3 linked regions of the Homo sapiens genome follow. The protein of the gene in region 2 binds, or shares a complex with, the protein of the main gene of each other region. Each region holds a gene or a part of one and is shown on either strand. Other genes may lie near its edges. The genes, in order: EIF3J, EIF3D and EIF3F.

Region 1 (3,751 bases), on a different chromosome or scaffold from region 2:
TGACTTTTTTTTGTGAGACGGAGTTTCATTCTTGTTGCCCAGGCTGGAGTGCAATGGCGCGATCTCGGCTCACCACAGCCTCTGTCTCCTGGGTTCAAGCAATTTTCCTGCCTCAGCCTCCCGAGTAGCTGGGATTACAGGCATGTGCCACCACACCCAGCTAATTTTGTATTTTTAGTAGAGACGGGGTTTCTCCATGTTGGTCAGGCTGGTCTTGCATTCCCGACCTCAGGTGATCTGCCTGCCTTGGCCTCCCAAAGTGTTGGGATTACAGGCGTAAGCCGGCCTTGATTCTTTTTTTTTTTTTTTTTTTTTTTTGAGACGAAGTCTCGCCGCACTGTCACCTGGGCTGGAGTGCAGTGGCACAATCTTGGCTCACTGCAACCTCCCACTCCTGGGTTCAAGTGATTCTCCTGCCTCAGCCCCCAAGTAGTTGGGATTATAGGTGTCTGCCACCACGCCCAGCTAATTTTTTGTATTTTTAGTAGAGACAGGGTTTCACTATGTTGGCCAGGCTGGTCTCAAACTCCTGACCTCGTGATCCGCCCACCTCAGCCTCCCAAAGTGCTGGGATTACAGGCATGAGCCACGCACCCGGCCTGACTCCTTTTTAATAGTGGGCTTTAGAATTATATAGACTTAATTCATTAACCAGGCTTATGTTGTATGGAATACTACTTGAAATAAATGAGCTATTGGCCAGAGTATAGGATGCTTTTTACATTTGGGGGGAAGTAAGAACTATAAAGTTCTCTCAGTTTTTATTTATTAATAACTGAATCACTTTCAGAGAGGCTATTGATTTCAGCTAGGTTGTCCTAACTGCTAATGGAGAAGCTTTCTTATGAAGTTAGATAAGTTGATATGAGGGTTCATATGGAAAAACAAAACATGCAAGAAAGGCCAAGAAAACACTAAAAAATCTGAAAACCTACAAGGAAGGACTAGCTCTAGCTGACATTAAAGTAAAGCCTCTGTAATTAAAACAGTACCGGCTGGGCATGGTGGCTCACGCCTGCAATCCCAGCACTTTGGGAGGCTGAGGATCACCTGATGTCAGGAGTTCGAGACCAGCCTGGTCAACATGGAGAAACCCCGTCTCTACTAAAAATACAAAAATTAGCCCGGCATGATGGTGGACACCTGTAATCCCAGCTACTCCAGAGGCTGAGGCTGGAGAGTCACTTGAACCCAGGAGGCAGAGGTTGCAGTAAGCTGAGATCGCGCCATTGCACTCCAACCTGGGCGACAAGAGTGAAACTCCGTCTCAAAAAACAAGACCAAAAAAACCCAGTATGGTACCGTTATATGGAGAGACAGTAGACTAGTGGGATAGGATCAAAAGCCCAGAAATAGACCAAGTACATATGAAAATTTAGTATATGGTAAGTCACAAGGTATCTTAAAATGTTTTTTGCTGCAATAGAATGCAATAGACTGGGTATTGTATAAACAACAGATTTATTTCTTATGGTTATGGAGGCTGAGAAGTCCAGTATCAAGGTGCTGGCATCTGGCGAGGGCCTTCTTGCTCTATTATCCTGGGGCAGAAGGGCAAAAGAGCACAAAGGATTGCAGGAGGTGTCAGAACTCATCCTTTTATCAGATATCTACTCCTAATATAAAGGTATTAATAATTCATTCATGAGGGCTTTGCCTCTAATCATTTCTAAAAGACCCTACTTCTCAACACTGTTGGATTGGAGATTTCATCACATGAACTTTGGAGGACACATTCAAACCATAGCCCAGGGAAAAAAACCATTATTTATTAAAGGGTTTTTAATAAATGATGCTGTGACAACTGGGTAGCCATTTGGGAAAAAAATGAAATTAGATCCATGTTGCATATCATAACACAAGAAAAAAACTCCAAATCAGAGATCTAAATAAAAAAAAAAATGAAACCCTATACATTCTAGAAGAAATTGTGGGTGAATTCTTAGGTGTAAGAAAAGACTTTCTGGCTGGGCGAAGTGGCTCATGCCTGTACTCCCAGCACTTCGGGAGGCTGAGGTGGGCGGATCACCTGAGGTTGGGAGTTCGAGATCAGCCTGACCAACATGGACAAACCCCATCTCTACTAAAAATACAAAGTTAGCCAGGCATGGTGGTGCATGTCTAATCCCAGCTGCTTGGGAGGCTGAGGCAGGAGAATTGCTTGAACCCGGGAGGTGGAGGTTGTAGTGAGCCTAGATCATGCCATTGCACTCCAGCTTGGGCAACCAGAGCAAAACTCCAACTCAAAAACAAAACAAAACAAAACAAAACAACAAAAAAACAAGAAAAGACTTTCTAATTGACTTGAAATCCATCCAGAGGCAATGAAAGAAAAGACTGGGGCTAGGCACGGTGGCTCACGCCTGTAATTCCAGCACTTCGGGAAGCCGAGGCGGGCGGATCATGAGATCAGGAGTTCGAGACCAGTGTGACCAACATGGTGAAATCCTGTCTATACTAAAAATACAAAATTAGCCAGGCATGGTGGCATGTGCTGGTAATCCCAGCTACTCGGGAGGCTGAGGCAGGAGAATCACTTGAACCTGGGAGGCAGAGGTTGCAGTGAGCTGAGATCGTCCCTGTATTCCAGCCTGGGCGACAGAACGAGACTCCGTCTCAAAAAAAAAAAAAAAAAAAAAAAAAACCATTTCTACTAAAAATAAATGAGCCAGGCATGGTGGTGTATGCCTGTAATCCTAGTTACTGGGGAGGCTGAGGCAGGAGAATCGCTTGAACCTAGGAGGTGGAGGTTGCAGTGAGCTGAGATCGTGACATTGCACTCCAGCCTGGGCAAGAAACTCCGTCTCAAAAAAAAAAAAAAAGTCTGGTAAATTTTATTGCATAAATTTGTTGGGATGCATAGCAATTCATGGGGAAACAATAGAGGCATTTCCATCAAGAAAGCAAGGATGCCCATTACTTCTGCTGCTGTTCAACATTGCACTAGAGGTTTAGCTGGCCCAATTAGGTAAATCACTTGTGAGGGCCTAAGGATTGGTAGAGAAGTAAAGCTATCTTTTGTTTGCAGATAAGGTAGCATACCTGTAAAACCCTAGAGAAGCAACGATAAATCTAACTTAAGTGATAAATGAATTCAGTAAGGTAGCAGGATATTAACATATAAAAAAGCCAATAGTCATTTTTGTTTATTTGTTTTGAGACAGGGTTTTTATGATAGTGAGTTGCCTAGGATAGAGTGCAGTGGCACTATCATAGCTCACTGCAGCCTTAACCTCCTGGGCTCAAGTGATCTTCCCACCTTAGCCTCTCAAGTAGCTGAGACTACAGGCACATGCCACGTTGCCCAGTTAATTTTTTAATTTTTTTTTTTTTTGCAGAGACTGGGTCTTGCCGATAGGTTTTTATACACAAATAATAGCCACCTAGAGGACATAATAGGAAAACACCCTATTTATAATAGCAACATACAAGATGAAATACTTAGGAATAAATCTAAAGAGAAATGCGCAGAGCCTCTAATAGGGAAATCACTTTAAAACACTTCTGAAAGGTACAAAAATGTACTTGATCAAATGGAAAGACAGTTCTTATTCTTGGTTAGGGCAGCTCAGCATTATAAGATGTCAATTCCCCCTACATTAATTTATAAATTTAATGCAGTACAAAAAAATACCAACAAACATTTCTCTGGAGTTAGTCAAGTTGATAATAAAGTTCACATAGAAAAGCAAACATGCAAGAATTATTAATGGAAGTCCTTTTCTTTAGGATAACTGGGATGACGATGATG
Region 2 (3,751 bases):
AAGGAAAACTGTACCGACACATGCTACCACATGGATGACTCTTGAAAACACGCTAAATAAAAGCTGCCAGTTACTAAAGACCACATATTGTATGATTCCATTTATGTAAAATGTCTAGAACAAAAAATCCCGAGACAGAAAACAGATTCATAGCTGCCTACTGCTGGGCTACTGGGGGTGCTGGTGTTTGGGTGTGCCTCCTGGAATTCATTTGGCAATCTGGTTGCTACTGCGGCAGTGTCGGGAGGTAGGGCCTTTAAGAGATTAGGTCGTTAAAAGGAATAAATGCCTCATGCCCTTCTCTCAGGAATGGGCTAACTACCCAAAGTTTAGCCCTTTTCTCTGTTGCACCCTGCTCCCGCTTCTGCTTTTTCTGCCATGCTATCAAGCAGCATGAGGCCCTCACCAGATGTGGCTCCTGATCTGGGACTTCCCAGTCCCCAGAACCATGAGCTAAAGAAACCGCTTTATAACTTACCCACTCTCAGGTATTCTGTTCTAGCAACGGAAAACAGATCAAGACAGGGTGACTGCTAAAGGGTAAGGGATTCTTTTGAGGGTGATGAAAATGGTCTGAAATTGACCAGTTACAGAACTCTTCAAATATATTAAAAACCACTAAATTGTACGGTATGTGAAGTATATCTCATCTAAGCTATTAATAAAGACAACCAAATAAACAGAACCAAATTCCAAGGCAGAATTCTGGTATAAATACATTACCTGTGATTTCTGATCCCATTTCTGCCTAACCCCAAATTGTTTCTGGAACTTTTTCTGCAGTCGAATGCGTTCTCTGGAAAGACAGACATATGATCTCAGTGCAGACCTTTAAACCAGTGGCTTCTTCAAAAGGCACACGCTGCCATTCTCTTCAGCTAAACCTTACCATCACCACTAACTCCTTTAAACTACGAAAAATGGGCTTAGAGAAAGGAAGAGACCCAGACGGTGCATACTGGAGGTGTTAGAAAAGGTACACTGCCTCCAAATACTGACCAGATGATTTTACTTCATCTATAGTGACTGTTCACTGATAGTTCCAATCTGGGGTGTAGTGGCCGCTGGACCACACAACACCAGGAGGCTCAAAGGACCAGCATACAGGGGGCTTCCTAGAGTTGACCCACAGCAGAACTGAGCCCAGGTAAGCTCCAGAGCCTCTTCTTGCCTGCCTGTGTTTCCCTTTAGTGCGCATGACCAGCACAAGGAGTTAGTTTCCTGCCCATGCTATCTGCCATGAACCAGCCTGAGAACGACAAGCTAAAAGGGGGCTTAACTGGTTGTAGAAAGTATTTTCCTTTTTTGCAGTGGTGGGGAATACAACCATCCTCCTGCTTTGGTCCTGTGGTTTCCAAATACGGCCAGTCTGGGAAGGGTGTCTTGTTCCAGCAGGATGAAAATCTCACCTCTCTTTCTGTTTGGCACTCTTAGGCAGGATCTGCAGGTTGAACTGCAACATGTTCCGACGATCTTTGTCTCTGCGGAGGTTCCTCTGGGCATCAGCAAGAAACATCCATGTTAAAATCTTGGAGATTTGGCTCACAATAGGCAGAACAAGTGGGAGGTCTTTGGAGTAAATTTAGGATGCCAAATCCCAAGTTTCACATCTTACTCTGTGCTTTCACTCTACGGCATCAACAGCTTGGGGGTGTTAGGGGGTAAGTGCTTGGACTTTGCTTAGACCTATACTCCCATGATATATTTTTCATTGAAGTATGTTTACTGGGTCTCATTAGATTTTCTGAGTTTGCCTCTTTAAATAATAATAGGCAATCTGACTGGACCATCTACTTAATAAAGTCTGCACACAGCAATTAAGTGTGGTAACAGGCACAGGTGCACCTTCTTATCCAGCACAAATGTTTTTAGCATACAAGTCTGATGTCCTAGCTACTGGCAAACAGAAATATAAACTATTTAAATGCATCCCTGATCCTAGTGCAAGTTCACCTTGGTACCACTTGTTATGGAACGGTGACCCGAGATTCACGAAAAGACCTATAATATGCTTCCCTCTCTCATTAGGAGTCACAAGGTAGCATTTTTTAGCAGGTGATGGCCAACAGTAACAGCCCCAAGATGGTGTGGTTGCTGGCTCTTGGCCTACCTGGGCAAATCTCATTCGATTCCGCTGGTAGGCCGTCTTCTGTGTGCGCGCTGTATCCACCAGCTGGAAGCTACTTTCATCCTCCTCATGGAAATAAGCATATTGACTTCCACCACCAAACTGAGAGGAGTACTTATCTGGAGGCAAAGGTGATGGCATGTAGTAACTGCACCCACAGACTTTACCAGATATGCACCAGTCTAAAGCCTTGCTATTTCAAGTGTGGTCTTGAGACCTGTAGCATTGGCTGAAAGCTTGTTAGACACACAGACTCACAGTCCCACCCCATACCCACTGAATCAGAACCAGCATTTTAACAAGATCCCCGGATGATTCATATGCACATTCAATTTTGAACAACTCTGGCCTAAAGAACTTTCTAAGCCAAGAATCTGAAGGACTCAAACTAACCCATTTCACTCTCTGCGTTATTGTGTGAGAATCTGAGGTATTTATTGCTAACCACCATCTCCATTATCAGGGGCCCATGGCAGGTATGTCTAATAGATCACGATATACTTTCTTGCCAATCTCAGCCTCAGCTATCCTAACTTAGTTCTCCAGGCAGCCACCTCCAACTATCTGAAGTGGCAGAGAGAAAAAGCCTTTTTATGGTACCAGGATCTTAAAACCAGGGGTTTTACTTTTTTTTTTTTTTTTTTTTTTGGAGACAGGATCTGGCTCTGTCACCAGGCTGGAGTACAATAGCATGATCTCTGCTCACTGCAACCTCTAACTTCTGGGTTCAAGTGATTGTCCTGCCTCAGCCACCCGAGTAGCTGGGATTACAGGTGCACGCCACCACGCCCAGCTAATGTTTTCAACAGGTTTTTAAAAGGGCCCAAAACCCCATTTTAATAGGCTAGACCTCTTTAATGAATGGTCTAAGTTTTGAGGGCTATTTCCAAAAATGTGGTTATTGTTAAAGCCCAGAATACATCCCTAAAAGTTATGAATTATTGTTGGCAGTTTCTTCCCATTCTAAAAAGCTTTCAGAAGAAGGTCATTAGAATAAAGAACAACTTTCCCAAGGCCCTGATTGGGGCATTCAGTTGCAGAAACACTTACTTGTGTACCTCTTATCTTGGTATGTGGCTCCTGTCCAGTCTGCAACCTACGAAGAACAAGAAAAGACAGAGAATGCACAGGTCAACCAGGCAAGTTTCTGCAGAACCAGAAATCCCTGAGCGCGAGAGGACAGCGTGGAAGAGTCTCAGAATTTGTTCACAACACCTCTGTAAGTGCCCAGCTCTTCTATGACTACACCCAGAGATAACCTTTCTCAGCTGGCATCCCTATAAGAAATTCAGGAGTTAAGATTTTGAGACAATAAAATCTAAACAGGGACTCGAGAGTAGCAGCCACAGCTGCAAAGATTCAGACTCCTGCTGACAGGCATGTACCTTTCCTAGCCGATCTCCTTTGCTGAACGGCTGGTAGGGCATATCCCGAAACTGCTCGGGAACCGCACAGGGACCCCAGCCTGAGGGGTTGTCCTGGATCACGGGTGTCATGAACTTTGCCATCTTCCAAAATCTGAAAAATATAAATCATGTGAGTAGCGGCATGAACGAAGGCCTCAGAGTACAAAACACCCTCCATATGAAGTAAGCAAAGACATAAATGATAGAACTCAAAAAG
Region 3 (3,751 bases), on a different chromosome or scaffold from region 2:
GCAGGGCACAGTTACAGAACACCATCATGCTGTGGAAGGTTAAGAATGGAGTGAGGGTCCGGGTATGGGATGGAGGACCGGCACTTAATGCTGTTGCTGGGAACGTGGAAGGTAGGTAGAGCTTAAACAAATGAAGGACAGCAGGAAAAGCACTTGTGGCAAAGAGAACGCAAAAGCTTGGTCTGAGAAAAGACAAGCAATGTTCAGAAGATATGAATTTAAGTTTCTGTAAAATGCTATACCGTCAAAGATAGATAAAGGAGAGAAAATGTGTGTCTGTATGCATTGGGGTGGTCCAGGCCTGATGTGAATGGCAACTAACAGCTGTACCTAATGTGTGCCAGCATAGTCAGAAGTTTTTAATTTAGCTCTCACAAAGACTAAGTCTAAAGTAGCTCCTGACAGAACAGATTTTAGGTAATCTGCCCCAAGTCACATGGCAAATGTTTTGTGAGGTCTGCTTACAAATCTTGTCTGCTTTGCAATATACCAACTGTCTTCTATGGTGTAAGAACTAGTAGATGTTCAAGAGTATGAAAGAGAAAGAATGCTTGTAAATAAAGTGGATTCACAAAGCTATTTAAAATCTGGCACTAAGATGGAATGGAAACGAATTTCATGGGACCAGCATAGTCTCCAGAAAGGAATTTATTATCAACAATCCCTCTTTAGTGCTTTTCCATTTTACAAACTACTTTAACATAAAATATCTATTCCCCAAATTTGGAACACAGGCAGAGAATGGGTCATTTTTCGACCTGAAGGTTAAGGGCAGAAATATAAACAGATAATACAACTGTTTGCGTCCAAATGCAAAATGGGGGAACAGGGTTTCTCACATTAGGTACTAATATTAGGGGACACTGAGGGACACAGATCAGGCTCAGACGTTTAGGACAGCAGAACACTATAAAATCCCAAGCGGGTTCCAACCAAACCGGTTTACTTGTTGGGAGGAATGTTTTTTTACAAACGTCCCCACTCCTTTGACAACTGGTTAGAAAACTTTGTCAATACCTGGAAAACGATGACATTTAGTCAGTGGATAAGGGAGAAATATGTGGTCACTGGTATAGGGAGTCAAGGGTTCCTGACTTCCCACTCGGCGTGTGAACTCATTTTTGGTAGATGCAGCCCATCATACTTGCCATAAACTGCTGTTTATGTAAAATGTAAACCACTGGCATAAATGTAAACCACTGGCATAAAATATTCAGTAAATGACACAACTACTCCTTGTGTATTTTATGTCGCTTAAAGTGACAGCAATCCGGCAGGAGAGAGAGGAGAGATGCAAGTGCTTGAGAAGATAAGTCACAGCAAAAGGTAGGATGCAGATATAGATTAAGAGGTCATTGGGGATGGGAGGAAAGGACGGTAGGACACCAGGAATTAAAGAATTAATGAGTTAGGGGAGTGAGATAAATGAGAAGTGGGAGGAAGAAAAGAATGTTAACTTTCTCTGACCACTCACCCAACAGGGTCCCGATAACTCGGGCAGCACCCTCGTTGCGTCTCTCGTAGCTGTCCACAATGGAGGCCAAAATGACTGGGTGCAGCCTGACCACGCGGCCGCCGGGGAAGGGCCCTGGAAGAGCAGGACCAGGCAGAGCGGGCGCTGGGGTCTGCGCTGGAGCTTGCGCTGAGGCCGGGGTCTGGCCAGGAGCCGCAGTTGCAGCCGCTGCTGCCGCAGGGTCTGAGGATGAGGCTGGAGCCGCAGCGGGAACCGGAGCCGCAGCCGGTGCTGGCGTTGGCGCTGGAACTGAGGCTGGGGCCGCCGCCGGGACTGGGGTTGGCGTGGCCGGAGGAGCACTTACTGGTACCGCCGGTGTGGCCATCTTGTCGAGAAAGAAGGAGGCGGAAGCGGAAATGACAGCATTCATGAATATCAGGAGCTTGATAGGCTGAATATACACCACGTGAGCTAGAGCTTTTTGCTGATTGGTTACTGGTGATACTTCTCGGAGCACTGAAATAGTCCCGCCGTTGGTAATTTCTTCTGGAATTTGTGCGCTCTGCTTTTGGCCCGAGGAGCACTCAGGAAACCCTGGGCTAAGTAGTTCCGGGTAAAACTTGGGACGGCGTTCGAAGAGAAACACTTTGTGCAGCTGCCGCCAGGTGGAACCAGAAAGCAGCGCGGAGGTCGAAATTCGTGTTTTAGACTTAAATGAGATAATGGATGTCAAAGTGCCTTTAAAAAGGATTTTAAGGCCAGGCGCGGTGGCTCACGCCTGTAATCTCAGCACTTCGGGAGACCGAGGCGGAAGGATCGTTTGAGCCCAGAAGCTCGAGGCTGCAATGGGCGAGAAGGAGAACTTAGCTGGATTTCTCCTGCTGCTTTGAGAAGAGACTGGAGGGTGAGGGGAGGTGAGGAGAGGGAGGCGAGAGAGGGAAAAGCAGGGAGACCTGCTGGGAGGCCACTAGGTAATCTAAGTGAGAGATGATGGTGGCTGGGACCAGGCTGGTAGCAGTAGAAGTTCTGAGAAGTGGGAAGATTATGGATATATTTTGAAGGTAGTTTCAATAGGGTTTCCTGAGAAATTGTATATGAGGTGTGAAAGAGAGGAGTCAAGGAGGACTGCAATTTTTTTTTTTTTTTTTTGTACTGAGCGATTAGTAGGATGAAGTCACCATCAATTGAGATAGCAAAAGCTGTAGGTAGAGCAGGTTTTGGGGAAAAGATCCTGATTTCATTTCTGAATGTGTCACCTTTGAGATGTCCATTACACATTCAAGTGGAGTTGTAATAAGGTGTATAAACTAGTCTGTACTTTAGGAGAGGATTATATGAGGTATTGCCTTGTAAAGCTCTTAGCACATGCCTGATATACAGTAGTTATTAAGTCATAGCTATTATCACTATGTGATGGAGGGAGCTCTGACCATAACCCACTGTGTAACTTGGGGCAATCTACAAGTTTTTTCTGAGCCTCAATTTCCTTCTTGGTATAATGGGGTGATAACATCTGCTTGTAAAGACAAAACAAAACACCAAAAAAACTGTCAACTCCCTTAATTAGGTCAAGTCCTAGTGTCCAGCTGGCAAGTGGATAGGTGAGGTTGAACTTCTTATCCCTGATTCTGTGCCCAAGAGTTGATTTCTCCTTGGAGAAATCTTCCATTATTAGAATTCACATGACGCTGCTCCCCTGTAAATGCTCTGTGTAGACATGCATTCTTTCTTTCACCAAAACAAAGGTGAACAGCCAAACAGAAGAAGATTGAAAAGTAACTCTTGGATTTGATGACCTGGAGTCTTTAGCAACCCTAGTAGAGCAACGTCAGTGGGACTGAGGGTGGGGTGGGCACAGAAACTAGAAATCTGGTGTGAGAGAATGGCCAGTCTGAACTGAAAGCAGCAAGTGCCAGCTTTTCTTTCAGGAAGTTTTCTGGGAAGGAAAGGAGACATTTAAGGAAATAGCCAGGGAAACAGCAGGATTGAGAGGCAGCCAATTTAGGATGGCAGTGTTTCAAGTATATTTTAAACTGAGGATAAGAATATAGACGAGAGAGAAATATTAAATATACAAGTGTGAAAAAATATCTAATGAAACGGGCAAAAGGTGGACCCACACTGAGAAGCCTAGATGGTCTTGCACAGGCTGAGAGGCATGCTGGAGAGACTGCCCAGGGCCCTGGCCTCCCTTTTGGGTGCTTAGTAGGGGTCTGCCTGAGTCAAGGTCAGTCCATTGAGATCATCTCATGGGAAAAAGGCCAGAGGACAGAACCCAGTTGAAGAAGTGTTGCTGCC

Evidence for each region.
Region 1: EIF3D (region 2) and EIF3J share a complex: the UniProt entries of both Homo sapiens proteins name them as parts of the eukaryotic translation initiation factor 3 (eIF-3) complex.
Region 3: EIF3D (region 2) and EIF3F share a complex: the UniProt entries of both Homo sapiens proteins name them as parts of the eukaryotic translation initiation factor 3 (eIF-3) complex.

What each region holds. Positions count from the first base shown.
Region 1 is NC_000015.10:44,547,147-44,550,897, forward strand, and holds part of EIF3J (eukaryotic translation initiation factor 3 subunit J), read left to right. Parts: intron 1-3,729; coding exon 3,730-3,751. UniProt on the Homo sapiens protein: Component of the eukaryotic translation initiation factor 3 (eIF-3) complex, which is required for several steps in the initiation of protein synthesis.
Region 2 is NC_000022.11:36,522,486-36,526,236, forward strand, and holds part of EIF3D (eukaryotic translation initiation factor 3 subunit D), read right to left. Parts: intron 3,647-3,751; 5' UTR 3,637-3,646; coding exon 3,514-3,636; intron 3,225-3,513; coding exon 3,179-3,224; intron 2,248-3,178; coding exon 2,111-2,247; intron 1,496-2,110; coding exon 1,410-1,495; intron 797-1,409; coding exon 724-796; intron 1-723. UniProt on the Homo sapiens protein: mRNA cap-binding component of the eukaryotic translation initiation factor 3 (eIF-3) complex, a complex required for several steps in the initiation of protein synthesis of a specialized repertoire of mRNAs.
Region 3 is NC_000011.10:7,985,440-7,989,190, reverse strand, and holds the start of EIF3F (eukaryotic translation initiation factor 3 subunit F), read right to left. Parts: upstream 1,855-3,751; 5' UTR 1,839-1,854; coding exon 1,475-1,838; intron 1-1,474. UniProt on the Homo sapiens protein: Component of the eukaryotic translation initiation factor 3 (eIF-3) complex, which is required for several steps in the initiation of protein synthesis.